7 separate regions of the Homo sapiens genome follow, and regions 2, 3, 4, 5, 6 and 7 are each linked to region 1. Evidence: fine-mapped expression QTL. A gene starts in region 1. Each other region holds a variant in brackets. All regions are shown on one strand. Distances are from middle to middle. Region 1 holds the start of ZNF831 (zinc finger protein 831). Region 2 has its middle 56 kb from the start of ZNF831. Region 3 overlaps ZNF831 (zinc finger protein 831). Region 4 overlaps ZNF831 (zinc finger protein 831). Region 5 overlaps ZNF831 (zinc finger protein 831). Region 6 has its middle 30 kb from the start of ZNF831. Region 7 overlaps ZNF831 (zinc finger protein 831).

What was found.
Region 2: its variant is fine-mapped to the expression of ZNF831 in whole blood (TOPMed, PIP above 0.99).
Region 3: its variant is fine-mapped to the expression of ZNF831 in whole blood (TOPMed, PIP 0.98).
Region 4: its variant is fine-mapped to the expression of ZNF831 in whole blood (TOPMed, PIP 0.98).
Region 5: its variant is fine-mapped to the expression of ZNF831 in whole blood (Lepik 2017, PIP 0.92).
Region 6: its variant is fine-mapped to the expression of ZNF831 in whole blood (TOPMed, PIP above 0.99).
Region 7: its variant is fine-mapped to the expression of ZNF831 in whole blood (TOPMed, PIP above 0.99).

What each region holds. Positions count from the first base shown.
Region 1 is chr20:59,161,400-59,165,468 of GRCh38, forward strand. It overlaps ZNF831 (zinc finger protein 831), which reads left to right and starts at 2,422. Exons shown (of 6, transcript NM_178457.3): 1 at 2,422-2,808.
Region 2 is chr20:59,105,330-59,109,398 of GRCh38, forward strand. No RefSeq gene overlaps it. Among named protein-coding and RNA genes, the nearest start is that of ZNF831, 56 kb to the right of the region's middle. RefSeq lists an enhancer at 734-1,235. The variant T/C (reference allele first, on the strand shown) is at 2,426.
Region 3 is chr20:59,256,623-59,260,691 of GRCh38, forward strand. ZNF831 (zinc finger protein 831) reads left to right here. Exons shown (of 6, transcript NM_178457.3): 6 at 1-2,491. Among named protein-coding and RNA genes, the nearest start is that of EDN3, 42 kb to the right of the region's middle. The variant ATTATT/A (reference allele first, on the strand shown) is at 2,453.
Region 4 is chr20:59,201,033-59,205,101 of GRCh38, forward strand. The region is part of intron 3 of ZNF831 (zinc finger protein 831); the gene reads left to right. Among named protein-coding and RNA genes, the nearest start is that of ZNF831, 39 kb to the left of the region's middle. The variant C/T (reference allele first, on the strand shown) is at 1,807.
Region 5 is chr20:59,249,130-59,253,198 of GRCh38, forward strand. It overlaps ZNF831 (zinc finger protein 831), which reads left to right. Exons shown (of 6, transcript NM_178457.3): 5 at 3,849-4,009. Among named protein-coding and RNA genes, the nearest start is that of EDN3, 49 kb to the right of the region's middle. The variant A/G (reference allele first, on the strand shown) is at 1,786.
Region 6 is chr20:59,132,274-59,136,342 of GRCh38, forward strand. It overlaps a transcript of ZNF831 not described here. Among named protein-coding and RNA genes, the nearest start is that of ZNF831, 30 kb to the right of the region's middle. The variant C/T (reference allele first, on the strand shown) is at 2,437.
Region 7 is chr20:59,184,207-59,188,275 of GRCh38, forward strand. The region is part of intron 1 of ZNF831 (zinc finger protein 831); the gene reads left to right. Among named protein-coding and RNA genes, the nearest start is that of ZNF831, 22 kb to the left of the region's middle. The variant C/T (reference allele first, on the strand shown) is at 2,247.

The DNA of each region.
Region 1 (4,069 bases):
CCTGAGTACCTGGGACTACAGGTGTGCACCACCACACCCGGCTAATTTTTTGTATTTTTAGTAGAAATGGGGTTTCACCATGTTGGCCAGGCTAGTCTCAAACTCCTGGCCTCAAGTGATCCGCCTGCCTTGGCCTCCCAAAGTGCTGGGATTACAGGCATGGGATTACATGTTGCTGCATGGATACATGATTTTATTATTTTTATGGCTTTGTATATTCCGTGGTGTATATATGCCACTTTTTCTTCATCCAGTCTACCGTTGACAGGCACCCAGGTTGATTCCATGCCTTTGCTATTTGTGAATAGTGCTGTGATAAACATACGAGTGCAGGTGTCTTTTTGGTAGAATGATTTATCTTCCTTTGGGTAGATACCCAGTAATGAGATTGCTGGGTCGAATGGTAGTTCTACTTTTAGTCCTTTAAGAAATATCCAAACTGTTTTCCACAGGGGTTGAACTAATTTACATTCCCACCAACAATGTGTGAGTGTTCCCTTTTTTTTCTGCAACCTCACCAACATCTGTTATTTTTTGACTTTTTAGTCATAGCCATTCTGACTGCTGTGAGATGGTATCTCATTGTGGTTTTGATTTGCATTTCTCTGATAATCAGAGATGATGAGCATTTTTAAAATATGCTTGTTGGCTGCTTGCATGTCTTCTTTTGAGAAGTGTCTCTTCATGACCTTTGCTCACTTTTTAATGGTTTTGTTGTTGTTTGTTTAAGTTCCTTATAGATTCTGAATATTAGACCTCTGTTGGCTGCATAGTTTGCAAATCGTTTCTCCCATTCCATAGGTTGTCTGTTTACATTGTTGATTATTTCTTTTGCTACATAGAAACACTTTGGTTTAATTAGGTACCAGTTGTCAATATTTATTTTTGTTGCATTTGCTTTTGAGGACTTAGTCTTAAATTCTTTGTCTAGGCTGACATTCAGAAGAGTATTTCCTTGGTTTTCTTGTAGGATTTTTATAGTTTGAAGTCTTACATTTAAGTATTTAATTCATTTTGGGTTAATTTTTGTATATATTGAGAGGTAAGAGTCCAGTTTCATTCTGGAATTAGAGTGGCACTAATCACTCTATTCAACATTCTTCTGCATATGGTTAGCTAGTTTCCCCAGCACCATTTATTGAATAGGGGGTCCTTTCTTTCACTGTTTATTTTTGTTGACTTTGTTGAAAATCAGTTGGTTTTAGGTGTGCAGCTTTATTTCTGGGTTCTCTATTCTGTTCCATTGGTCTGTGTGTCTATTTTTATACCAATACCATGCTGTGTTGGTTATTGTGGCCTTGTAGTATAGTTTGAAGTCAGATAATGTGATGCCTCTGGCTTTGTTATTTTTGCTTAGGATTGCTTTGGCTATTCGGGCTCCTTTTTGGTTCCATATGAATTCTGGAATAGTTTTTTTCTAATTCTGTGAAAAATGACATTGGTAATTTGATAGGAATAGTGTTGAATTGCTTTGAGCAGTATGGACATTTTAATGATATTGAGTCTTATAATCCATGAGCATGGAGTGTTTTATCATTTGTTTGTTTTCTTTCAGTAGTATTTTGTAGTTCTCCTTGTAGAGATCTTTCACCTCCTTGGTTAGATGTATTCCTAGGTGTGTGTGTGTGTGTGTGTGTGTGTGTGTGTGTGTGTTGCTATTGTAAATGGGATTGTGTTCTTGATTTGGCTCTCGGCTTGAACATTACTGGTGTATAGAAATGCTACTGATTTTTGTACATTGATTTTTGTATCCTTAAACTACTGAAGTCATTCATTGGGTCTAGGAGTCTTTTGGTGGCAACTTTAGGGTTTTCTAGATATAGAATCATATCATCAGTGAAGAGAGATAACTTGACTTCCTCTTTTCCTATTTGGATGCCTTTTATTTCTTTCTCTTGCCTGATTGCTCTGGCTAGGATTTTCAGTACTATGTTGAATAGAGTGATCAGTGCCATATCTTAAAAATAAAACCTAATTCAAACAAATCCATGTTGAACAAAATATCACCATTTTACATAAAGACAGCATCGCAGAAATCTTTCACTGGGACCTCCCACCATAGTCAATTGCAGTGGAAATGCTCATTCTGGGCCCTCAGGAACCTCTGGGGTTACATGTGGAGGTTCTGCAAACACTTGTTCCATCCACATCTCCAGGAAAACGACCACCTAGGCTCTAATTCTTAAACTTGCCTGCACAGAACAACCTCATCTCTAATGCAATGTTTTTTTGCACACCTACATTTCTGGGCAGCAAGCTCTTTATAGGTTGTTAGGTCAATAGTAACAATTACTAAAGAGCTGAGCGGTGGCTCTTTTTTTTTTTTTTTCGTGTCTGCTTCTATCTCTTCCTGTTTTCTAAGGGTTGCTACCGTGACGTTAGGTAATGTATAGGAAATAATTTACTTCCTATTTCTGGGCCATACCAAGTTTTATCTCTGCTTGAGTCTCTTCCAGGTTGCTTGAAATGGTGCTTTTCTCAGTTAAACGTGGACTTGACATAAAGGCCAAGCCACAGGAGGCTGCCCTCTTTTATTTTATTTTATTTTCTAAGGCTCAGGGAGCATCTCTCCGTTCTCTGAGATGCTGCCTGCAGAGTAGGAACTGGGAGAGAACACTAAAATGCCCTCTCAGCAAAGAGTAGCGAGCTCCCTACAGAGAGTGAGAGCACGGGCTCTTGAGCTCATCTCTTCTCTGTGGGGCCAGCCCAGTGGTCCTTTCTGGACCTGTGGGTGTCTTCTCTGGGCAACCAGATCATTGTGTTTGAATCAGAGCATCATTGGCTGAAAACACTCCACTGTTTATAAAGGTATGTAACATGCTCCATGACATAAGCATATATAAAATGTCAGTTAAAAAAAAACTCTTTTACTCTATGTTCTTAATGATATATTTATCTTCAAGCACGCAGTTAAAGGGAAAATGCTACGTAAAACTGTGTGTGACCCAGTTCAAGTAATTCTCTCATGTGCTTAATACTGCTGTTGCTTTTGTCAAAATATTTACTACAATTCAAAATGGCTGTCAGAAACCAGGTCCACAATCCATGTTCTACTAAACAGAAAAACATTTATAAGAAAATTTATTGCTTTATAAACTGTTTTTTTTCCCAGTGATGAACCTAATTAAACTGAAAGTGTGAATTGGTTAGAACATATTAGCCCAAGTATGTGTGGTATATATATACACATATATATGTATGTTTTATTAGGCCAAGTTTTTTATTTGTATATAATATAATTGAAATATCAAGGTATTTGATAGAGCTACTATTTATAGCAATTCTACTGATCAGCCACCCAAGGGTAGCATTTTTCAATGAGATTTACAAGGGCCAATAGTCCATGTATTTATACACATATCTGACTTCCCAGTATCCAAAATAGCAAAGAGCTGGAGGCTATCTCAGATCAGCCATGGAAGCCATGCTCTGAGAGGTAACGTGTTTCTCCTTTCCCGTAGCAAATCTTTCTGTAAGAATGAAACCAGAGATGTTATCTACCAAAATGCAACGAGGGACAGGATGCAACTTAGAAAAATGGTAACATTAGCTGACTGGGAAAAACAGAATCAACGTCAGGGCCAGTTTAAAATAATATGCCTTTTAACCACCCTCGCTTTATTGCCCCAGCTAAGAGCAAGTATTTAGGACCATAGGCTAATATTAATCAGAGAGAACACTTAGGTTCTGTGGCAATGTTGGGGTCTGTGAGATTTGCTTCCTTAGCTGTGCTTCCGCTGGGAAGCTGGGGAGGGTTGGTCCTGAAGGAGGAGTGCCATGTGAGCAGGGTTACCCAAAAGCACCTGCCTAGGGGAAATGGGCTCACTATCAGGCGCCGTGGAGTTACCAGCTAGAGAGACTTTTCTCCTGGTAGAGACCATGAACATCATGTAAGCAGAGAACCAAGACTGTAAAAGGGAGGTAGGGTAGGCTGTTTGGTTAGGGGAGTGGGGCAGGAACAGACACAGGGAGAGTCTACCACGTCTGGACAAATCACATCTATGGTTTTATCCAATCCTTTGAACAAATGAACATGAGCCCCACTTTTCAGATAAGGAAAACACAGCAT
Region 2 (4,069 bases), 56 kb before region 1:
AGACTTCCTGCCCCAGTCTTGTGCCTTTCTGTTACAGGGCAGCAGCCTCTCCTTTCTGCAACATCCACTTGGTCTTGATGAAAAATGAAACCAACCTGCCAATCATGTCTTACCGAAGTTACCTGCGGTGATGAATATAATAATTTTGAACTTTTCTTTAGCATATAAATAATCCCTGCCTTTATTATAATATTCTGCAGGATAATGTCTAACTCAGTCCTAACCAAGAGCATTATATTTGTATGTGTTTTCTTCAGGAGGCTATTATAATGAAATAAAAAGGCAGCAAAGCTCACTGGGAAAACAGCAGGCTGGGGCTGCCCTTGCGTTGGAAAGTGCTTAGGGGAGGGAAGGTTCATTCTTCTCTCACCAGCCTCCCACTGCCCTTCCCAGGGGACTCTCTGATGTGGAAAGCCCTAGAGTTCTCCAGCATTCTTCCCCGGGGCATCATGGCTCTGGCCATTCCTGTGATCCTGTCCTTCCATGCACAGCTCTTGGCAGGCCTCTTGACTTAGCCACGTGATCCCAACTGGGTGAAGGTGGATGTCCTTTGGCCCACACTTGTGGCTGCCAGGATATAGGTTTGGTGCAGAGATTTAATTTTTGGAGAGCTGAGAACTCGAAACTGGTGGATGGACATGGCTTCTTGGATGGCTGGCTTATCAAGAGCAGCTGGCCATTTATGATTTGTTAAGGGCTTTTGCTCTCTCCTGGCCTCAGCTTCTCTCTGGATCTTATCACAAACCTGTTATAGTTTCATTTGATTTGTTTCTTCGTTTATTTTTTTCCTCCCTTTTTGGTTATTGTTATTTTCCTGGGGTTTTGAGGATCAGACTGAGCAGGGTGAGGGAGCCAAGTTACCGCTTGGAAACCTCAGAGACAGCGAGATCAGATTTCAGGTCTAAGGTGAATTTGCTGTGGCCCAGAATATTCACTCTCTTTGTCTAGCAGCTCAATTCCCTAATTGCCCTAATTGCAGTGAGCTTCTTTTTATCTGCAGGTCAACAGGGATACCTCAGTGATGCATTTGACTTCTTAGGAGGTAAGATCAGCCCCCCACCCATCCCTTATTCTGAAGAGGAGGATGTTTTCCTTGAGTTCAAACCCTAGAGCCACATTCTACATCATAATTCCTTCTACACCATAATTCAACTCAATTCACAAAACAGGGATCCAGCTTCTGCTTTGAAAGTTCCCATGCTTACCATTAAGGACAAAACCACAATGGGCAAATGTGGAATCTTGGTTCTGGATTCTCCCTGCCCTGGGATGAAGAAAGGCATGGCGGTTGGCTGGAGAGCGCTGAGCCTCCCAGTTGAAGAGTTAGGGCCCTGCCAGTGACTATCCCACCCTCCCCTGTCTGATCCTTGCTGTCCTCTCTGGCTCTCATCCCTCTTCAACATGTCTTTTCCATCCTGTGCCACCATCTGAACACCTTGGTCGAATGCATCAGGCTACTGTCTGAATCTGGGACTCTGCACACACAGCATCTTCTGCCCAAGACATGTTCTCTTCTCTGGTCATTGACGTGACTCTTACTCATCTGTCGGGTGGGTGTCTGTTAGGGACTCAGCTGATTGCGTGTCACAGAAGATCCAAATAGGAGAAACTTCAGCAAGATAGGGGTTGACTTTTTTCTCTCGCAAAAAGAAGTCTGAGGGTAGACAGTTGAGGATGGTGTGCAGACACCTGGTCCAAGGGCTTTGCAACATTCCTGACCTTTCCCCCGCCTTTCTGTGTTGCAAGATGTCCGCTGCGGCTCCAACCATCAAGTTTTGGACTCAGGCAGGAAGAAGAGGAAAGGTAGGGGGCAAACCCGCAAGGACCACAAGCGTCTTTTAAGGAGGTTACCTTGAGGTCCATCCACCTGGCCGCTGCTGCTTACCTCTCATCTGCCAGAACTGTGGCACAGCTCTGCAGGGAGAGCTGGGAAATGTAGTTTTTCCTTTTTCAGCTGAGCACATAGTCCTTTCTTCCTCCCATTACTCTAAATATGGTTCTGCAAAGTATATTCAGAGAAGTGGAGCTTCTCATGTCCCATTCATGGCATTTTGTAAAATAGATTTTTATGACTTTACTACCTTTTAAAAAATAAATGGAGCATATTGTACATCCTTTTCTCCATCTTGCTTGTCTTTGCCTCACAATATATCCAGAAGAGTTCTCCCAACATGGTTGTGTTATTTTACATCCCCACCAGCAATATGTGGGAGGTGTACTTGGCCCACATCTTAGCCAGTATTTACTGCTGTCATTTTTTTTTTTTTTTTTTTTTTGAGACAGACTCTCGCTCTGTCGCCCAGGCAGGCGTGCAGTGGCACAATCCTGGCTCACTACAACCTCTGCCTCCCGGGTTCCAGTGATTCTCCCGCTTCAGCCTCCCGAGTAGTTCGGATGATAGGCGTGCGCCCCCATGCCTGGCTAA[T/C]TTTTGTATTTTTTAGTGGAGATGGGGTTTCATCATGTTGGTTAGGCTGGTGTCGAACTCATGGCCTCAAGTGATCCGCCTGCCTTGGCCTCCCAAAGTGCTGGGATTACAGGCATGAGCCTCCATGCCCAGCCAGTGCTGTCAATTTTTAAAATTGTATTCACTCTAGTGTCTATAAAATTGTATAACACTGTGGTTTTAATTTTTATTTTCCTGTAACCTAATGATGTTGAGCACATTTTGATGTACTTTTTGACCATTCATGTACTTCCTTTTGTGAAGGTTCTGTTCGAGACATTTACCTATTTTTATTGGGCTGTCTTTTTATTACAAATTCATAATAATCCCTTAATTGTTCCTGAATCAGACAGGTATAGTATAGACATTTTCTATGAGTCTATGACTTGCCTATTCATTTTCTTACTGATGTCTTTTGAAGGATTGATATTTTAAATTATGATTAAATGTATCAGTTTTTCTTTAAAAAAATGTGGTCTGTTAAAGAAGGAGCTGTATTCATTTCCCAGGGCATCCCTAACAAATGGCCACAAACTGGGAGGCTTAGAACAACGGAAATGGTTTCCTTTGCAGTTCTGGAGGCTGGAAGTCTGAAATCAAGGTGTAGGCAGGGCTGTGCTCCCTCTGAAGGCTGTGGGGAAGGGTCTGCTCCAGACCTGTCTCCCAGCTGCTGGAGGCTGCCAGCAACACCTGCTGCTCCTGTGCTTACGGCTGTGCCACTCCAATCTCTGCCTCCATTGGCACCTGACCCTCTCCCCTGTGTGTCTTGTATCTTCTCTTCTGATAAGGATGCAAATCATATTAGATTAGGGCCTCCCCTACTTCTATGTAACCTTAACTAATTACATCTGCAATAACCCTCTTTCCAAATAAGGTCACATTCTGAGGTTCCAGGAAGAACATGAATTTTGGAGGGGCACTATCCAACCAAACATAGATATCAAGGCGAATGGCTAGGAAATTAACTGTCTCTTTATAAGGTTTCAGCTTAGCTTGTGAGCACTGAAAGCATCCCCTCCTTCACAGCATAGTAGCTAAATGGTAGTTGCCTGCTTCCTTGTCTGAATTCCTCGTGTGTCAGAGGGCAGGGAACTCTTACTTTGTTCCTCTCCCTGACCCCTGACTTTAAGTAACAGAAATCCTTAAATTGGCTGAAATTGTAAGGGAATTTATCTTCTTGGCCAACAGGAAGTCCATAGGTGGGTCAGCTCCAGGCTTCGGAGTTAGGGCCTTAGCTTTGCTCATGCCCTCCAGGATGTGTTAGCTTCAACTTCGGTCAGGAAGCAAGATGGCAGCTTCCATTTCAGATAAGCATTTGTAGAGGGGATATTTCCCAGACTTCCCCAGCCATGTCAGGCTAGGTCACATGTCCTTTTGTCAACCAGTTGCTGGTAAGGCCTGGCTTGGACTAATTACTTAGGGGTCACCTGACGTTGGGGATTCAATCAACAAGACCCTTTCCCTGTATGAATGACTATATTCTTGTTGCACTGTTGAGCCTGGGACACTGCTGTGCCCATGGTGGCTTCTTGATTGTGTGGTGACCTTGAAGGCTCCAAAGGCCCTGCTCAAAGCCCTAGAGGCATTTTGCAGGATCATGCGAACCAATGGAAACACGTTTTCCTT
Region 3 (4,069 bases), 95 kb after region 1:
TTTCTGAGAATGGTTGATAGAGAAGCTGCTCTCTCCTTAAAATGCATGGACTCAATGGCTTGAAGATATTCCCCATGGGGAACCATTGCCACGGAGGCCTTGCATGCAAGAAGTTTGGGTGGGGACAGTGAGGAACTGAAACACAAGCACCTTCCACCAATTATTGCTGTGAAGAACCTGAGCCTGAAGAAGCTCCATCTAATTTTTTCCCCAGAGTTCCAGATTTTAGGGTGCAATCATCCAGCCTATACATGTGGCTCATAGTTCAAAAAATTAAAAGCAAAACCAGAACTCTCCAGTAGGAATGGAGAAAACCTATCTGTAGGCTGAACTGGCTCCTTTGTCTTAGGAGGCACTGGTCAGGGGAAAAAAGCTGTCTTCCAGACCCCTCCTTTCTGGGTGGCTACTGTGGAATCAACGGGGTCACTGGCTGTAAATCAGTAAGTCATAGCTCCAAACAGCACCAACTTCAGGATGATGGTGGAAGCTCTGTCCCTATAGGAGCCACCGTTGCCAGCTGTCACATCCCAACCTAGGTCAAATATGGCGGAATATTGATTTCGTCTCTAACTCCCTGTATCTCTTACAAAGGTAAAGCAGGTAGCGAAGCCACCTTGCTTCCCTGGTCTTTGCCTAGTGGCTGGCAATGTTTACAAGTGTACCTTACTTTATATCAACATGAATTTGTGAAAAAGCTGTATGTCAATGGATTTTTTAAAAATTAAAAATGTATTTTGAATGACCCTAAGGGAGCTGGCTCTTTAAAAGCATCCTAAGGTAAAGATTTTTTTTAAATGAAGAATCTTTTTATAAAGCAATGAACAATCTCTGATTTTATAAATCTTAATTTTCCTATGGGTTTTCTTAAAGTGAAATACAATTATAAGAATACATTTTAAGGGTAACATTAACAACCTAGAACCCAGTTTGGGTTACTAAAAATAAAATGTCAGTATTATCAATTGATAACTACCACAGTTTTATACTCTGCAAGTGTGTACTGCATGATGGTTAAGGAAAAACAAATTTATTTTAGAACAAAGCAAACCAGAGTTTAAAGATCAGGGATTTCCTTCTTTCCCCAGTGCTAATTTTCCCAGTGTTAATTTTATTATATCTTTAGGTAAGGGTCTTAACCAACTGATGCCTCAGTTTCTTCCACAGAGAATAGTTAGAGGGATGCTGTCATGAACTAAGGGAAGGGCACTGAATTTTTTTTTGCCAATATCAAAAGTGACATTTCCCCATGATGTTCAAGACTCACCAGGTTTCTCTCTCCACCTGTACCTACACCCAGCTAGATCTTGTCGTTAAAGATGTATGGAGGGAAGAGGTTTCAATCCTTCCCTCCTTGGCAACCTACATTGTTAAGTGACTCAAAGTCATGTGATTTTTGGTGGACAACTGGAATCCTCCTTCTTGTAAAACACATTGAAAAACAGCTCATCTCTCCTGTTAGGCTTAACCCTTGAGATTTGAGACAAAGCTAATAATCCCCTTTGGTTCACATCTCACAGTAACCAGGAGAACCTATGGTTCATTTGCCAAGTGATTAAAAAAAAAGATGGAGGAGGGTGTCTCTGAATTTTAATGGAAACACTGCCAATAGCATGGTGGGTAACCTAGGGCAAGACAGACTTTTTCTTCCTGAAATCACTCTTCTAAAGCTGAGACCGGAAGAGGAACCTTGCAGAAGTGCACTGTGACCACAGTTCTTGGCATGAAAGATAAACAATTTGCAGTCTCATGCCAAAAAGTATTTCCTTGCATTTACATTCATTACTTAGAATGATCACATTATTCATTTTTTTCCCCAGCACAGAAATTTGCATTTTGCACAGAATTTGCCTGGTGCAGCAGATCTTTATAGTTATGGAAACTGTCATCATTATCGGAATGTGCTGCTGCTCAACTCCCCAGACATAATTTAATATGGTGAGGAGAATATGACCTGCCTGGCTCTATGGGTGATCATATTTCTACTGCTGCAGCAAGCTGGGCTTGTGTATTTTTCCTCACTTCAGTTGTTCTTCCCATAGTTCATGTAGGGAGGCACTTTGGCTTTTGAAACACTACATTTCTCAATATTTAAGCACAATTTATTGTCCTTATTTTTCAGAACCCATTAAATATAAGGGTCAGAACCTAGAAAATCTTATGTGCTGGATTTCTACCCTGTATGATTCTTTTCATCCATGCTTTGCACTTACGTAGGAATATACATAATTTGGTCTGAAGAAGTATAGGAACAGTTGAGCACATTACTTCACCACTGGAAGAATAGGAACCAGGGAAAAACATCAGCCTCTGCCACTTGGAGCACTAGAGGATGACGGAATGTCTTGTATATGCGGTCAACTGTTCAGGATTTACTACTCAATTGGTTGTTCACAATCAGGGAAATGATTGGCTTCTTGGTTGTTTGTTGAACTTTCTTTCTTTATATGGTTAA[ATTATT/A]TTGTTTTGATAAAAATAAAACTTAAAATGCAAATGTCTCACGTGATTTGTTAACATTTTAACCAAAACCCCTGCAAATCATATGCTTTATGAATTGGACATCTGATTATTCCTAATCATTGACCCAATGCCTCGTTGGCCGTATTGGTATCCCATTCCACTCAACAAAGGGATTAGGTCATGTCAAATGATCTCACTTTCTTGTGGTGCTTCCTTTTCACACATAGCTCGTTTGTCATTATCTGCCATATTTTATAGTCTGTAACTTAGGAATCTGGTTTTAGATTCTTAAATGTAGCGAAACTCTGAAGCCACAGGAGGGCACGAACCACAGTGCAATAATCCAGAATCTTTTCCCCTTGGATTTGATGTTTTCTGGACATTTAGCATTATTCATTAACAGAGAAAACATCCTTAAATCAAAATCATAGCTTCTTATGAAGGTGATTTATGTACTCCTTGCAAGAATAAGTAGACTTACTTTTACAGCCCAACACAATGTTATTAGTCTATTTACATACCTCTTGAAGACACTTGAAGTCAGTGGGGCACAATTCATTGGAGGGAAAAGTGGGATCGAGGATATGGAAGGAACAGGTATACTAATTGATGGCAGTTAATAGCTTTTTTCCCCAAACTCATCAAACTGTAATCGCCGTTATTATAATTAATCTATTTGTTCCAAACTTCAGTCATTTGAGAACCATCTTAATGCTTTTTGCCATATGTATCAAGATGCCACATGTGGGTATATTTTTTACTTAATACTTTTATTTAAATTATCTCTGTGTTAAAGAAGCAATTATTGCCCTAAGCAATAATGTCTATGAAAACTTGTTGAATTTTCGAGTTAAGTATATTTTCAAATATGCATTAAATGTAGTAAAACTATTAAAAATTGTTCATGTGCCAGTTAAATACCATCTTCATATTACCAGTGGTCTACCCAGTGCACTTGGGGAAACATCGAGCTAACCTAAACAGTATGTTTGCTGTTAGGTTTTCTAGTTATTCTGGCTTCTATGAAGCAGAGCTCTGTCTCCATTTTTTCTCCAAGACAATAGAACTGGTGACCACAAACAGAATTGTGGGATTATTGGGTAAGTTTCTTTGGTCAAACTGTAGAGTTAAATAACTGACATTTCAAATCAAAGGATTTTGGTCTCAAAGGAATAATCACATAATGTTTTGTTGCATAAATATGTTTTTTGTTTGTTTGTTTGTTTTGGTGTTTTGAGTGTTGGCTGATTAGTCGGTGAGTACAGAATGATGTATAGGAATGCATAGTTAGGAATTCATGCCCAACCAGAAGCACCGACATAAGTTCTGCTGAAATAACTGCTTCCATACTTCTAAATGTGAGGGAAATGGATTTGGCTGTACTAAGAACCACAGAGAGCAACTTTTTAAGTCTCCTTAGTGTCAGCTTGTTGATCTTTGGGCTGTGTATGCAGAAAGAATTGCTCAGTGGCATCTGTGACCTTTGTTTCCAGCGGTGACAGACACAGTCTGCCTTCAGTTTCCTTCAGTTTCTGCCAGAGGCAAATTCAACAGCCTCTACCATTGAGCATCTTGGGATTAGTCCATGGCCATTTCAGCCCAGAAATAGGTG
Region 4 (4,069 bases), 40 kb after region 1:
TTATTAACTTTTAAAGAAGCTGCCAAATTGTTTTCCAAAGTGGTTGTATTATTTTACATCTCCACTATCAGAGTATGAGAGTTCCATTTCTCTACATTATTGCCAACACTTGGTATGGTAATTTTTTTTAGTTTTAGTCATTTGAATAGTTATGTAGTGGTATCTCTTTATAGCTTGAATTTGCATTTCCCTAACAAGTGATGATATTCAGCATCTTTTTTTGTGTGCTTATTTAGCATTTGTATATCTTCTCTGGCGAAGTGTCTCTTCAAATCTTTTGCGCATCAAAAATGGGTTGTTTTCTTATTGAGTTTTGAGAATTTTTTTAATATACTCTGATTATAAGTTCCTTATCGGAGATGTGATTTGTAACTATTTTCTTTCAATCTATGGCTTATCTTTCTATTCTTTTAGTAGCATCTTTTAAAAAGCAACTGTCTTTCACTTTGATGATATTTAATTTACCTTTTTTTGTTATGTTTTTAGTGTCATAGTTTAAAAAAGTGTGTCTAAACAGAGCTTCAAAGCTTTTCTTCTAAATTTTTCTCTAAAGTTTTATACTTTTAAGTTTTATATTTAGGTCTATAATTCATTTTCACTTAGTGTTTACATATGGTGTGATGTATGGATCGAAGTTCTTATTTTTGTGTGTGGATATCTTATCTAGTTGTTCCAGCATCATTTGTTGATCTATTTGTCTATTTCAATGCAAATACCACACTGACTTGATTACGCCGCTTGACTCTGAGACTTATTATAAAGCTAAAGTATTCCAAAGAGTGTGGTTTTTGCATCAAAATGGATACAAAGATCAATGGAGCAAAATAGAGAATACAGAAATAGACCATGCTGTGGTCAATTGATTTTTCATACAGGCTCAAAGGAAATTCAGCGGAAAAAGTATAGTCTTTTCAACAAATGGTTCCAGACCTGGAAAATTTCTCCATCAATAAGTTGAGGTGTCATCAGGCTTACCTCATCTGTTTCTCTTCTTTCATGGATCACTGCCTTTATTGCTCAATGTCCAATGCCCTGAACACTATTGTTTTGTATCTTTATTCAGTTTTTTACTTGGGATGGTAAATCTGGTTACTTTTGCAAAGTCTTGGTCAGAAGTCCCTGGCCTATTGCAGTGCCTCCTAGTTGATCTCCCCTACTTTTATTGGTCTGCTAAAGTTTAAGTTCAATTGTTGATGTGAATTATATTTTATTTCCAAAAAGTTTTATTTAATTATTTTTTTAATTTGCTTGATCATTTTATAGTCTCTTGCACTTGACTCTTATTTTCAACCTTTTTTTTTTTTTTTAAAAAAAAAAACACATCTAATGTTTTGCATCTGACAATGACAACCTATGAAGTCTTGGCACATCTGACTCTGTTTTATATATTTGCTCTCACATATGTTAACTTATTTCCTTGTTTGTGTTAAAATTTTTGACTGTGAGTTGATATTTTTGGAACTTTGAGATGTGGGTTGAAGGTGGATTCCTCCAATAAATATTTGTTTTGCTTCCACTGGGTGCCTGGGGGTGCTCGTTTGTTTGTTGTTATGTTCCCCGGGCAGGTGGTGGGGTAGGGAGTATTTATTTCTAATTCACCCACATACTGAGAGTATGCCTTTCAGAGGTCTCAGCTTTATGCAGGAAAGGAGGTTGGGTCTTCCATGTGCCTCTCACTGAAGAACATTCTGGGCTTTGAGTCCTGTACCCTCAGCTGCACCAGAGCATGAAAATAGGAAGGTCATCCTCATCTGGTTTGGCAGATTCCTCAAAGTGAAAGCAATCTCACTTTTCCAGGGCGCAGCT[C/T]TCACTTGGTTTTTGCCTTTGAACTATTTCTTATCTTTTAATCAGAACATACGTAAATTTAAATATAAGTTTAAAAAATGTTTACATTTTACGCTGCATTTTTAATTGTTTTCAGTATAAGGATAAATTTGGTGGTAATCAGTCAGAGTATTGAGTCCACTGTGCTGTTGGAAATGGAGTTCTTATTTTTTAACCTTGATAATGATGGTTTTTTCATTAAGAATTTGTAAATTTTGATGTAGTCAAATGGGGCTGTCTTTTCATGACTTTTTGGTATATCTAAGAAATCTTTCTTTACTCTCAATTTCCTACTTTCAAAAATATGCAGATATGTTATCTTATGTTTTCTTCTTGTATGAATTCATATATATAGAAGGATTTATTTTTATTTTTGTTTATAAAGACAACTATGGACCACGGGTTAAATATGGTTTTTAACTTATTTTAACCATGAGCAACGCATTATTTATATACATATATATTTGATCGACAGGGTCTCACTATGTTGCCCAGGCTGCAGGGCAGTGGCTATTCACAGGTGTGATCATAGCACACCACAGCCTCACACTCCTGGCCTCAGTGGTCTTCCTGCCTCAGCTTCTGGAGTAGCTGGGAGTACAGGCATGCACCACCATGCCTGGCTTGGTTTTTATATTTTTAAAAGCTTATCCATATAAAAACAGAAGAAGAATACGTGGCACAGATTGTCTGTGGCATACAAAGTCTAAAATATTTATTAGCTGGACCTTTGCATAAAAATCAAGCAGACCCCTGCATTAATCCACTTTTGCCCACTTACATGTTAAATTTTAGCTTCCCGTTTATACTTGAAGTTTTTTTCAGGGCCTTTCATTCTGCTTTCATTCATCTCTATGTTTTTTGCCAACTGCAAATACCACACTGTAATGAAAATGGTTGTTTTCATTAACAAAACTACATGAGTTAAAGAAGAGAGATTAGAAAATGCAGGATCCACTTCCAGAGTGGAAATGGAAAAACGCAGAAAATTCATACTCAGAAGCCTAATTGCCCTGACATTAACTAGAGGCATAGAGATCCGGAGCACTCACAAAATACCTCCCTGCCTTGCCCAAAGCAAGCGCGGGATCATGGAATTAGATTTTATTGATTAATTTATAACTGTGTACTGTGCTGTATGAAGCATGAAACATTCAGAGACTTGTTCCTAGGAAGCTTCCAACAAATGGAACAATGAATTGTGAAGCCCCAAGTGAATGGAAATGAGCGAGGAGAAGATTGCAGGTTGTATGGGAGAAGGGCACTCTATAAAACCCTAAAATATACATTAGTCGTTGAAGGGGAGAGTGGAGAAGAAAAAAATCCTGGGCTTTGAGAATGCAATTCTATTAGCAGATAGTGTTTTTCCTTATGGAGCGGATGTTTATCTGTCTAAGCCATGTGTCTATTCACTTTAGTCATCACACAATTTACTTATTCAATGAGATAGCACTCTCAGTAATGAGAGCACAATCTCTGCAGTGAGGTAAAGACAAAGACCTACAGATGTGGCCCTGAGTCCACGTGGCCTCTGCTGCATGTGACCCCCACCACATGTGGCTGAGACTCTTTGTCACGTTGGCCACAGCCCCAGAGCTTTGACAGCAGTCCCAGGTCCTGCTTAGCAGGATACAGAGGCTCTGCCATCCACACCTCCACTGCTCTTCTCTTTGCTTTGTTCTTCTCTGTGGGGTCAAGAGAGGAAAGTGAGGGAAATAGCACGTCAGATCTCATAGTTTCGCCCCAGAAAGGAATGTGTGTGGAGTGGGCTGTGTACACCTGCAAGAGCCACTCCTTGGGTCTACTGTCCTTCCCTGAGAGAGCCTGACAAAGGTGGCAAGGGGGTGACGAGTGTATCACCCTCACAGCCGGGTGCGGAGGTGCAGCCTGACGAAAGTGTCCTGGATGGGGCCCCAACAGCACTGGCCACACCTTGAGGGGACTTGCATGGCTGGTGATGGAGATGAGCTTGCAAAACCTTCCTAAGCCAGGATGCTGCTTCTCCAGGAGGGGCTGCACACAGAACGTTTTGGGAGAACCAGGAGAGAGAGAAACGTACCCTGCCCATGACTAAACTAAACAGTCCTTTGAAGACATTGCCAAGGTCCACTTGGGCTGTTCTCGAAGGCAAAAAGTTTGAAATTCCACCTTGATGAAGTGCGAATTCAGAGGCGGGGCCTTTCCTAGCTCTCTCCTTGTTATTTTGCGTGAGGAGAAAGACCCCCGCTTGCTAATTTTCTGAAAG
Region 5 (4,069 bases), 88 kb after region 1:
ATATCCTTTGTGGACTTGTTCTTTCTCACTCTGAAGGTCTCATTTCTGATGTCGCCTTTCTGAGAAGTCTTCCTTGACTATATAAAACAGTCCTCCCTGGCTACTCTTTGGATTAAGCCCCCTCATTACTCTCTTTACTACCCCCTGCTTATCATGAGTCTGTAGTATGCTCCCCTCCATTTCTCATTAGTGTCTGGAATAGCCTCCTGTTAATTGTTACTGCCTGTAATACTCTCATTTTCACTCTCGGTAATATCCCCGTCCTCGATTTATTTCCTTTGCGACCCCATCACAATAGGCGTCTGCTTCCTTGTCTTTGCTTCTCTTTCCCCATTACAGTAGAAGCTCTTGAGGGCCAGCGTCACCTTTGTTTTGTTCTTCTCAGACTCTTCAAGGTGGAGCATGGTGCCTGGGTCATTGAAGGGGCCCAGGATGTGGTTGTTGAACAGGTGAATGGAGTACCAAAAGCCTGGTTCTGTGCCATTAGATTACCTGAGTACACGGGAGGGTCAAGAAAGATTGTGTGGAAGAAAAAAGCATTGCTATCTTTCCCAAACTGTGCACTTCTCTACGGATTTTCAAAGTTGATTTGCTCAGGATTAGCACACTTGGTAATCTAGTAACTTACCCCTTGAGATATAAGAAGTGGAACTGTTCTTTTGGTTTAAGATGGAGGATGGAACACATTTATTTACCTCAGCTTTTCTCTAACAACCAACAAGAGGTTAGTAATTAAAGGTGTTTTTAATATATAAGCTCACAAGGAGAAACGACTTGGAGAAGAAATGATGCCACCAGTTTGAAAACTGGAGTGCAGAGTCTGAATGGGAACTGATGTAGCTGACCCCAAGGAATGGAATCCTGATTTAACAGTGAGAAGACTCCCCACAACTCAGACATTCATGGTACCAGGTGTGGCTGAAAACAAGATTGATTGAAAGACTAAGAAGCAATCAGACTTCATTCCCACTCCGTTTCTACTTCTCAGAGCTTGGTAACTTCCCTCACCCTTGGAGAAGACTAGGGGCTTAGTCTCTGGACAGCATACAAAATGCTGGGGGACACTTGGCATAATTAGTTCAGCAGGGGAGTGAGGGGACTAGATTGAAAATGGGGTTTGAGCAAATGTGAATACTGCATATGAGCCCCCAGAATCTCTTCTCTAATTTTGACTCCAGAATGCCGGCAGCCTGGCTTCTATTTTCCAGTCAGGAGACCCGAGGACTCTTCTTGTAGAAGCTGACCAGTACACGTGGAGACCTGCAGATAACTACTTCAGGGTTCCCACTGAAACAGGGCAACCACATAACCTAACAGTAGGGCCCATGGTTGACAGATTGCACTTGTAAAGAACACCAAGTCAGCTTTTTTGTGCCCATTTCCTAAACATAAGCAGCGAAGATTGCTGTATTTCTCAGGAAAGCCACCAACCTAAAGAGAGAAATAAAAACAAACCAATGGAAACAAAGGAACTTGGAAGAGGGACTATGTAGGGGGAGGCAAACTTCAACAACGACAACAACAACAACCCATTATTAACATTGCCGGGGGTAAAAGAGAGGATGTTAGAGCTATGAAGTAAGAACAGGATGCTATAAAAAAAGAACATGGGAAAGAACTCTTAGAAATTAAAAGCATAATAGCAGAAATAGAAACTCATTGGAATATAAAGTTGAGGAAATTCCCCCAAAAGTGAAGCAAAAAGACCAAGAAACAGAACATCACAGCGAAAAGATAAGAAAAATAGAAGATTATACTAGGAGATCCAATAACCCAATAAGGGCA[A/G]TTCTAGAAAGAGAGAGAAGACAAAACAGAAGGGAAAAAAAATCAGAAATAACAGGTAAGTTCAAGAGTTATATTGTACAACATGGTAACTATAGTTAATGACAATGTTTTGTATTCTTAAAAATTGCTGAGAGTATAAGTGTTCTTGCCAAAAAAAGATAAGCCTATGGGCTAATACATATGTTATTAATAATCTAATTTAGCCAACCTACAATGTGTGTATATTTCAAAACAATGCATTGTACATGAGGAAGGAAAAGGAAAAAAGAAAAACAGAACCACATTTTTCTAAAACCTGAGGACATGATTCAGATTGAAAGAATTGATTGAGTGCCCAGCCAATGAATGAAGATCGACCCAGGCTGTGGTGACACCAGAAATAAAGAAGAGCCTCGGGGATTCCAGAGAACGACATACAAAAAGATTTCATCCAAAGGACCATGAATCATAAATCATATTGTCTCCAGACTTTTCAACAACTGGAACGCAATAGAGCCGTGTCTGCAACCCCAAAGGGAAATGATTTCCGATTTTGAATGTCATACCCAGCCAAGCTGCCAATGACATCTAAAGAGTTATACTTCATGTACCCTTTCTCATGAAACTACTAGAAGTTTTGTGTTAGGAAAGCAGGAGTGTAAACCAAGAAAAAAGAAGTTGTAGAGGTTCAGGAACCAGGAAAGAGGCGAAGAGAATCAGCACAGCGGGGATGAAGGGAGACCCCAGGGGCACAGCCATGCTGCAGAGAAACATGGTCCACTTGGAGCAAATCAGAAAGTTTCAAGGAAACATTTCTCACAGAATGAAATGAAACCTCAGACAATTGGAGAGGTGGTTGGAAAATGATTTTAGAAATGAGTCCATAGAAAACTCAGCAAAATTTTTAAAAAGCAAAATCGTCATTAATCCCAGGGAAAGCAGTTTTCACAAGAAAGGCAACGTAATCGTAGTATACTACAAGATTCAGTGCTGACAGGTATTCTCCTAAACATACTAATATAAACATGGAATATTCGCCTAAATGAAAACAGGCCATAGGGGTTAGAGAACTGTTGAGAAGATAGAGAGGTGGAATGTGTGCTTGTGTGGGGGGTCATGAAGTTTGAAGAGGAGGAGAGCTGGAAGAAGAGGGAAACCCTCCTCTCTCCCCATGAGAAGTCACAGCTACTACTTCCACAAAATGTAGTTCTATAACAATGTTATCAGACATGAAGGAGCTAAAAGTCAAAAGACTCCCGAATGGGAAAAGATGGATGGGTTGGCAGGGGTTGCAGTTTTTCTTAATACACAGTTAGGCTTGACTTTTCAGACTGCACATGTGTACCTTTCATCAAAATAAAAGCAAATTTAAAAGTGGGTCTAGTGCTTCTTCTCTAGTGACACAGTCGTTTTAAGATATTTCTCTGATCTCATATCATGATGGAACCTGCCCTCTCTGAAATTTTGTGATCCTTTTGACTGGTATGCCAGGTCATCAGTGCGGGTGAAGGATGAAGGAAAGACAGGTATGAGAAGTGCTGTTTTGTGGATATTGTCAGGGCCCTTCTTTCCTTCCACAATCACAACAATAACCACCACAACAAAACAACAGCATCACAAAAGCCAACCTCATCCCTTGCTGCCCAGCACTCTAGTGGGAATTAAGACCTGGTTTATATTTCTGGGTTCCCACCATGCATCGAGTGAAACGTCTATTCTGACTACTTGGTAGTATGTCAGAGAATTCAAGCTGATCTAAAATTTACCTAAACAGACATGACCAGGAATACAACTCTGATGAGAAGAAGCAACATGAAATATAGATATATTTTATGATATGTATCATTCAGGGGTTTTTCTACTTTGAGAATTGGTTTTGCCATTTCCTTCCTTCATAGAGTGGATATATTTTATTTGACCAAATGTGAATTGGTTGGAGATAAATTGAGTTCTTGCACACACCCTGTGAGATGAGGGTTAATGAGCTCAGAGGCGATCAAGAAGTCATGGACAACCTCCCAGGAAATTACTCTTTGCTAATTTTATAATTCCAGTCATATGTAAATGTGCCTCTCCCCTTGCAGGTCTGAATCTGCAAGAGGAGCCATCTTGTGCCACCTCAGAATCACCTCCTTGTTGTGGGAAGGAAGAGAAGAAGGAAGGTGACTGCAGACAAACCTTAGGAACCCTCTCTCTTGGTACAAGTTCAAGAATTGTCAGGGAAATGGACAAACGAACTGTGAAGGTGGGCATGATGATTTTGAGCTGCCTCTACCTATTCCTGGTCTAGATGTATAGCCCTGCT
Region 6 (4,069 bases), 29 kb before region 1:
GTTGGAGGTTTAACTCTTTTTTTTTTTTTTTTTGGCCATTGTCTGACTTCAGTAAACTGTCTTGTATATGCCTATAGTGAATGTGTTTGATTATGTTGTCAGGAAAAATTTTCTAGACGATTAATCGCTGTGCCCATATTGCCAAGCTGGTCTCCAGAAAGTTTACTATTTCACATGCCCATCAACAGGGCTGGAGGAGGCCTCTTCCCTGCAGCCTTGCCAAGCCCAGCTTTGGCAATATCTCACCTTCTTCTCAGTCTGGTGGATAAAAAATGACATCTCATCTTCACCTGCTTTTCTTTTGATGATCAGAGAGGTGAAGTATCTCTTCATAGGCTCCTTGGACATTGGCATGGCTTCTGGAAATGTCTTTGCCTATTTTTTTTTCAATTGGGCACCTTGTCTTTTTCATACTTTTTTGTAATCACCAGATTGCTACACTGGTGAATTAACTTGAATCCTCAGCAAACTTTCAACTTCATCTCAAGCACCCCTCAGCTGGAAGAAGGTGAGCTGGTCAGGGCTGAAGGCCGCTTCTCCAGCCTTGCTGGCCCGGGTGAGCTGTGCCAAGAGCCAGCTGGGCTGAGGCTCCACTCTGCTGAGGCTCCCAAGGCCTGACAGTGGCCCATTACACTGCTGACCACAGCTGGAAGCTTCTCAACTGACCTGTTAGGGTATGTTCAACCTCTGGTCCTGCATGACGTCCGTAGGATCACTTTGGGCAGTTGCTATGCTCCGGTCCTGCATGACGTCCGTAGGATCACTTTGGGCAGTTGCTATGCTCCGGTCCTGCATGACGTCCGTAGGATCACTTTGGGCAGTTGCTATGCTCTGGTCCTGCATGACGTCCGTAGGATCACTTTGGGCAGTTGCTATGCTCCGGTCCTGCATGACGTCCGTAGGATCACTTTGGGCAGTTGCTATGCTCCGGTCCTGCATGACGTCCGTAGGATCACTTTGGGCAGTTGCTATGCTCCGGTCCTGCATGACGTCCATAGGATCACTTTGGGCAGTTGCTATGCTCTGGTCCTGCATGACGTCCGTAGGATCACTTTGGGCAGTTGCTATGCTCTGGTCCTGCATGACGTCCATAGGATCACTTTGGGCAGTTGCTATGCTTGTTTTTCCAGTAGGAAAACACACCTCCCCCGTCAAGTTCTTATCCAAACTCAATTTTTGTGATAATTTAAAGCAATGTATATGAATGCAGGTCTGTCCATAGGCATCTCCATGCAGAACCAGATGGCCCTGCCCATGGGCAGAACAAGTGGCCCCGTGTGTGCCTCAATTTGACAGTTGCCAAGGAGGAAAAGGGAATAGAAAGCATGGATTTTGGGTTATGGGTGTAGGGCTGGGGACACAACAAGCAGCAGATAAAGGCTGGTTGACCAAGTGAGGAAGAAGCACATGCTGGAGTCCAGGGGTCAGAGACTCAAGAGCTCATCTCCCTGCATTCTGTCATTTTCCAGCTTGGAAACAGACACTCAGAGAAGGGAGGCAGCTCAGCGGCAAGGACGAGCCCTGGAGCAAGAGTGCATGCCTCCCCCTGGCTCTCTGCTCCTTTAGGCCCTACTTGACTTCCATGCTGCTCACTCTCAGGTCCCAGAGAAGAGCGCATCATTGCCATCAAGTGCAGGTCACTGGTCAGCAGTGCCGTGGGATAAGACGATGATAAGCACATGCCTTCTGGGCTTGGCCCATGGTGGGGCTGCTGCTCTTTGGGGCCCTGATATGGGAACACCTCACAGCTCAGATGCTCCTCCTTGGTTCCCAGCAGATGTCTTGGGCATGTTTCTGGGTCAGCTTCCTGCTGGCTTCTCAGTGGCATTGAGGACCACCCCAGAACCCTCTAATGTGGACTATCATGCCCAGAATCTTGCTGAATGGTGGACAGAAAGCAGTGGCTGTAGCAGCCAGCAGATCCCCTGCTCCCCTCCTGCTCTCCCTCCCTACCAAAGAGGACTCGAAGTAGCAGAACCCAGGCCCAAAGCAGTCCCTCTATCCACGGTGATCTTGTGTCCTTGTTCGGTTATTTTCTTGTCTCTTGTCTGTATTTCCTTATGGGGACTGTGCCATCCTGCTCATCACTGTCACCCAGCACCAAGGACAGTGCCTGACATGTAGAACGTCATTGATTGCTGAATAAATGAGGAACAAGGAGACTGAAGGGAAAACAGCTGCATGGGTCTTTCTTTATCCGCTTTTCTCTCTTGACCTTTAAGCAGATGGAAACTGTGGGCTTTCTCTTTAGTCTACTCTGAGAAGCTACAGGTGAGATACTGGACCTCTCAGAGACCTGAGAAGGACAAGAGAAACCCAGCGGTCCCACCATGGGCCAAGCCAGAAGGCATGTGTTTATTGTCGTCTTGGCTCAAGACACTGTTCTCACATGCTTGGCTCCCCATAGACTGGCTGCGTGGTCCTTCTGTTCCCAAC[C/T]TCTCTGTGCTCATCTGGGATGGGAGCGTCTGTAGTCTTCCTCACAGAGCCCTGGAGCCACATGGGTTGGGGTGGAATCTCAACTTTGCTTCTTACTAACCGTACAATCTTGGGGAAGTCATTCGATCTCTTTGTGCCTCAGGTTCCTCTTATAAATGAGACTAATGAAAGCACCTGGCTTAGAGGGTTGTGGTGAGGATTGAGGAATACCATGCATGACAGGTATCCACCTCCACTGGCCCCTTCCCCTCCAAGATGGAAAAAAAACCATCTGCATGGCAGCAGGAACATTGATTACTGGTTCCTCTACACCAGCTACCCCAGCAGTCCTCTTTCAGCCTCTCGGTAGCTCTAAGGAATAACGACTATTATTATTCTTGTTGACCCATAAGGAAAATAAGCCACAGAGAAGGGACTCACACAAGATCACTGGGCTCATGTTCTACTGTTGCTGTAGAAAATTACTACAAATTTAGCAGCTTGAAGCAACACCCATTTATTATCTCACAATCTGTTTGTCAGAGGTCCAGGAATAGCATGTCTCAGCTGGTTCCCTGCTCTGAGTCTTACAAAGGTAAAATCAAGAAGTTGGCAGAGCTGGGTGTGGCAACTCATGCCTGGAATCCCAGCACTTTGGAGGCGAGATTGGGAGGATCACTTGAGCCCAGCAGTTTGAGATCAGCCTTGGCAACATAGTAAGCCTCCATCTCTACACAAAATAATAAAAAAAAAATCCAGGCAGCTGGGCGCAGTGGCTCACGCCTGTAATCCCAGCACTTTGGGAGGCCGAGGCGGGCAGATCATGAGGTCAAGAGATCGAGACCATCCTGGCTAACGTGATGAAACCCTGTCTCTACTAAAAATACAAAAAATTAGCCAGGCGTGGTGGCGGGTGCCTGTAGTCCCAGCTACTCAGGAGGCTGAGGCAGGAGAATGGTGTGAACCCGGGGGGCGGAGCTGGCAGTGAGCCGAGACTGTGCCACTGCACTCCAGCCTGGGTGACAGAGCGAGACTCCATCTCAAAAAAAAATAATAATAATAATCCAGGCATGATGGTGCATGCCTGTGATCCCAGTTATTAGGTTGGTGCAAAAGTAATTGCGGTTTTTGCCATGACTTTCAGTGGCCACAGTTACTTTTGCACCAACCCAATACTTGGGAGGCTGAGGTGGGAGGATTGCTTGAACCCAGGAATTTGAGGCTGCAGTGATCCATGATGGCACCACTGCACTTCAGCTTGGGCAACGGAGCAAGACCCTGTCTCAAAAAAAGTCAGTAGGCTGTGTTCCTTACTGGAAGCCCTGGGGAAGAATCCACTTCCAAGCTTATTCAGCTTGTCATCAGAATTGAATTCCACGTGGTTGGGGGACTGAGGTCCCTGTTTTCTTACTAACTGTGGACTGAATACATTGTCAAGGTCTAGAGGCTGCCTCATTCCTTGGCTCATGGCCCCCTTCAAGGCCAGCATAGGCTGTCAAGTCCTTCTCATGCTTCGAGTCTCTCTTCCTTCCCCTCCTGCCTCATCTCCTACCCTCTGCTGCTGCTTCATTGCCCTGCCTTTCTCTTCTGCTTTTAAGGGTTCATGTGATTACTTCAGCCCCAACTTTATAATTGAGAGTATTTTTCCTATCTT
Region 7 (4,069 bases), 23 kb after region 1:
ATTTGCTAGCTTATTTCTTTTTATCGATGAATAATATTCCATTGTCTGGATGTGTGTTTACTGATGTTTACTGAAGGACATCTTGCTCACGTCCAGGTTTTTGCAATTACAATGCTGATGTTTACATCAGTGTGCAGGTTTTTGTGTGAATGTCAGTTTTCAACTCACTGGGCAATGATATAGTTCCTCTTCCTCCCTCCCCCCTTTTTTTTTACTTTCTGAAAATTGCGATACAACATACATAAAATATAACACTTTCACCATTGTGAAGCATACAGTTCAGTGGCATGAAGTGCATTCACATTGCATGCATCCCTTTTAAAGCAATGGTGTTCTAGGCATGAGGCTCTACACAGGTAGGGTGGGGACTGAGTAACAGCGTAAGTGGTCCCCATACGTGGCGGAGTGGGTGATGGTGGTCCAGGATGAACGGAAGTTTGGGAAACTTGTAACTACACCAGCCATCTTAGTACCCAAGTTCTATCTGCTAAACGTATCCAATATGCTTCTCCATGGCCTTCTCTTTCGGGGCCCTAAATGTAAATTCTAAAAACCTACTTATGGCATTTTCATGTTCTCTCTTTGCCCAGGCTCATTTGTGGTTTGCTTTTGCAAAGGAGGGCTTGGGAAATTGTCACTTCTTCTCTTCAAGTTTCTCCCACCTCTTTGTTCCCCTCTCCTCCATAAAGCTGCACATTTGCGCCAAAAGATATAACTGTTTGTGGGGGGGAATTGGGAGGAGGTGGGGAGCTGCACACGCGGCAGATGAGGGATGCGCCAAGTTCCCTGCGTGTGGGAGCCTGGGGATGGCAACAGGGTGAGGGCTTGGCATTCAGTCCAGGTGACCAAGGGGCTGTCCCGGACCCTTCCCTCGCTCAAAGAGGTAAGCCTTCTAGCGAGCTGCTTTCCCAGCCCCGGCCCCCAGCTTCCCCATCAGTCCAATGGGGACAATAGGACTTGCCATCTCCTTGATTCAGAGTGAGCAAAATTATCTGCAGCTTTTTGAGGTTTTCCTGAGAAAAGCGTCATCTCCCTCGAGGAAGGTGTTAGTCAGCTGTCATCTTGCCAGCAGGGATCAGCTGTTACTCAAAGGCGTCAATTTCGCAGTGATCACAGAACAGGCTGCAGAGAGCACAAAATGATCATCGTGGCAGGTGTGTCGGAAACATAGCGCTCTTTTCCTGGCATTTCTACTTTGAAGCCCCAAGCCTCCCACCCTATGAGAGTCAGTTCTGGGCTCCTTTTCCTCCTCCCCCTACCCCCAGGTTGGGCTAAAGTTTTTGGGGGGCACATGATACTCAGCCCTCAGCTCCCCAGGCAGGCCCCCACTGAGACACCCCTCGGGTGACAACCCCCTCAATTTGGCCCCATTTTCCCAGTCACTTCAGGGCCTTTCTGGGTGCTCTGAAATTCGTCCTGCAGCGAGAGCTCTGCGTGTGCCTCGTCCTCCTGCCTGGACGCACACTCCGGGCTGTTGATGCTCTGTGTCCTGGCACCCCTCTTTCCAGACTGCCCTGGGGAATGGAGCAGGAATTGCCACTGAGGCAGGAGCTGGACGGACTTATTTCTCCCTTCCTCCCTTCCGTGACCTCCCCACCCATGACCATTATAACCGGGGGATCAGGACAGGAGGCTTGTACTCATCCAGTTTCCTTAGGGTTTGGGGCTTTTGGAATTAAAACGCCTTTACTGAGTTTCTGCCACAGGAAGACAGAAGCCCTGCTCACCTATTCTCCGACTCAGCATTTAAGAGCCAACTGCAGGCAGTGCTTCTGTGTCTGATGGCTCCCTGTGGCCACAGAGCCTACCCCGTGCATTCATGCGTGCAGCTGGAAATGCCAGGACATGGCTGCTCCCACAGGCAGTCCCGATGCAGGCAGCTCACTTGCCCCTGGGGTGCATGTTCTACATGATCTCCTGGTGTCCCCCAGTGGGATTAAGCTCCAGTCACCCACAGTGGGGACTTGCTGGACATTTTGTAGCCTCCTTCACCCCCAGCCTTCCCATTTCCTTACAAGTGTTTCCTGGGATCACCTCCCAAATAAAATACTTGGGAATGGAATCCTTTTCTCAGGAACCCACCCCGAGACAGCATCCCTTGCTAGAGGCGATGCATGGAGACTGCTGAGCTGACGGATGGGGGAAGAGACAAGGGTAGGAGGAAGACAGGGTGGGGGAGGAACCGGTAGTTAATAGTTCAAAATATTATGGCGTATAATTGAAAACTGAAATAAATGGAGCGCTTA[C/T]TCTGTGCTGGGCACAGCACTTGGTGTTTTCACATAACTTATTTCATCTGAACCTCCTGGTGGCTCTGCCCCAATGCCACTGTTCTTAGAGATGAGGAAACAGTCTCAGGGCCACCCTCTAGCAAGATGGTTAAGCAGAGACAGAAATTCAGGCCTACTGGTCTCCTGGGGAGGTTCCTGAAATTCTCAGCTAGTAGAAAGGTTGCAGCGTCTTGAGGTAAGCCTTTATCTTCCATTCCTATTAGCTCTTATCCGTTCTGGCAGCTACCTGTTAATCTCTAAAGATTCCTGCCTTTACATCTTTCCTTAAACAATTAGAACGTCTCAGATTGTTTTGAAGCCAGGGGCTCTTGCAGATGGCCTAGTGTGGTGAGGTTCATAATGAGACCAGAGGTTTAGGAGAGGGACAGAGAGTGGGTGCAATGGTCTTCTGGGTCCTCCCTTCTGCTCAGTGATGTGCTGGTAAATGTTGAGACTGGCTTTCAGGATGAAAAAAAAAAAAAAGGACTGACTTGTAGCATTTGCTGATTTTTGTGGTGTCAGTGCTTCCACTGTGGCCAGTTCAAGCTGTGAACATGATGCTACTGATGCTGAGGTTGGGAAGAGCCAGAGGTGTGACGTTCCACACTGCCAGGAAGCGTTCCCACCACACCAGCACATCCCACATAAATGGCCCCAAGATCCCTGAGAATGGAAGATGCCATAGAATCCTTAGCAGTGGTGAGCTCTGAGTATGTAGGAGCTGGTGTGAACTGGATGTTTCTTCCCCCCAGCTCCAAATCTACATGTAAAATCCTCACTCCCCATGTGATGGTATTAGGAGGTGGGTCCTTTGGGAGGTGGTCAGGTCATGACGTGGAGCCCTCATGAGTGGAATGAGTGCCTTATAAAGGGGACCCCAGAGAGCTCCACTGGTCTTTCCGTGATGTGAGGGGGCAGCAAGAAGACGGCCATCTAGGTACCAGGATGCAGGCCCTCACCAGGCACTGAACCTGTCTTGGACTTAAACTTGATCTTGAACTTCCCGTCTCCAGAGCTGTGTGAAATAAATATTTGTCATTTAAGCCACCCAATCTAGGGTATTTTTGTTATAGCAGCCCAAAGTACTTTTAAAAAATTGAGTACCTTTGCTCAATGAAGACAATACTTTAAAAAAAAAATTGAGACAGTACCTGTTTACAATTGAGGTAAAATTCACATAACATTAAATTCACCATTTTAACTATTTGAAAGTGAACAATTCTATGGCACTTAGTACATTCATAGTTTTACAAACTACCACCTCTGTCTGGTTCCAGAACATTTTCATCACCCCAGAAGGAAACGTTGTACCCAGTTAAAGCCTCATTCCCCATTCTCCCCCTCCTCTGGCAACCACTATAATTTGTTTTCTGTTTCCGTGAGTTTGTCTATTCCAGTTTCTTCATACAAATGCAATTATAAAACACGTGATATTTTGTGTCTGGCTTCTTTCATGCAGCATGACGTTTTCAAGGTGCATCCATGTTGTAGCATGTGCAAGCACTTTGTTGCTTTTTATGGCTGATTACGATTCTACGGTACTGTATATTGCCGTTTGTCTATCCACTCATCAGCTGATGGACATTTCTGTCATTTCTCTCTTTTGACTATTTTGAATAAAGCTACTGTGAACATGCACGTACAAATTTTTGTTTGAATACCTGTTTTCAATTCTTTGGGGTATATACCTAGACGTAGAATTGCTGGATCCTATGGTAATACATGTTTAACTTTTTGAGGAACTACCCAGTTGTTTTTAAAGTGGCTGCATCATTTTATATCCCCACCAGTCGTGTTTATGG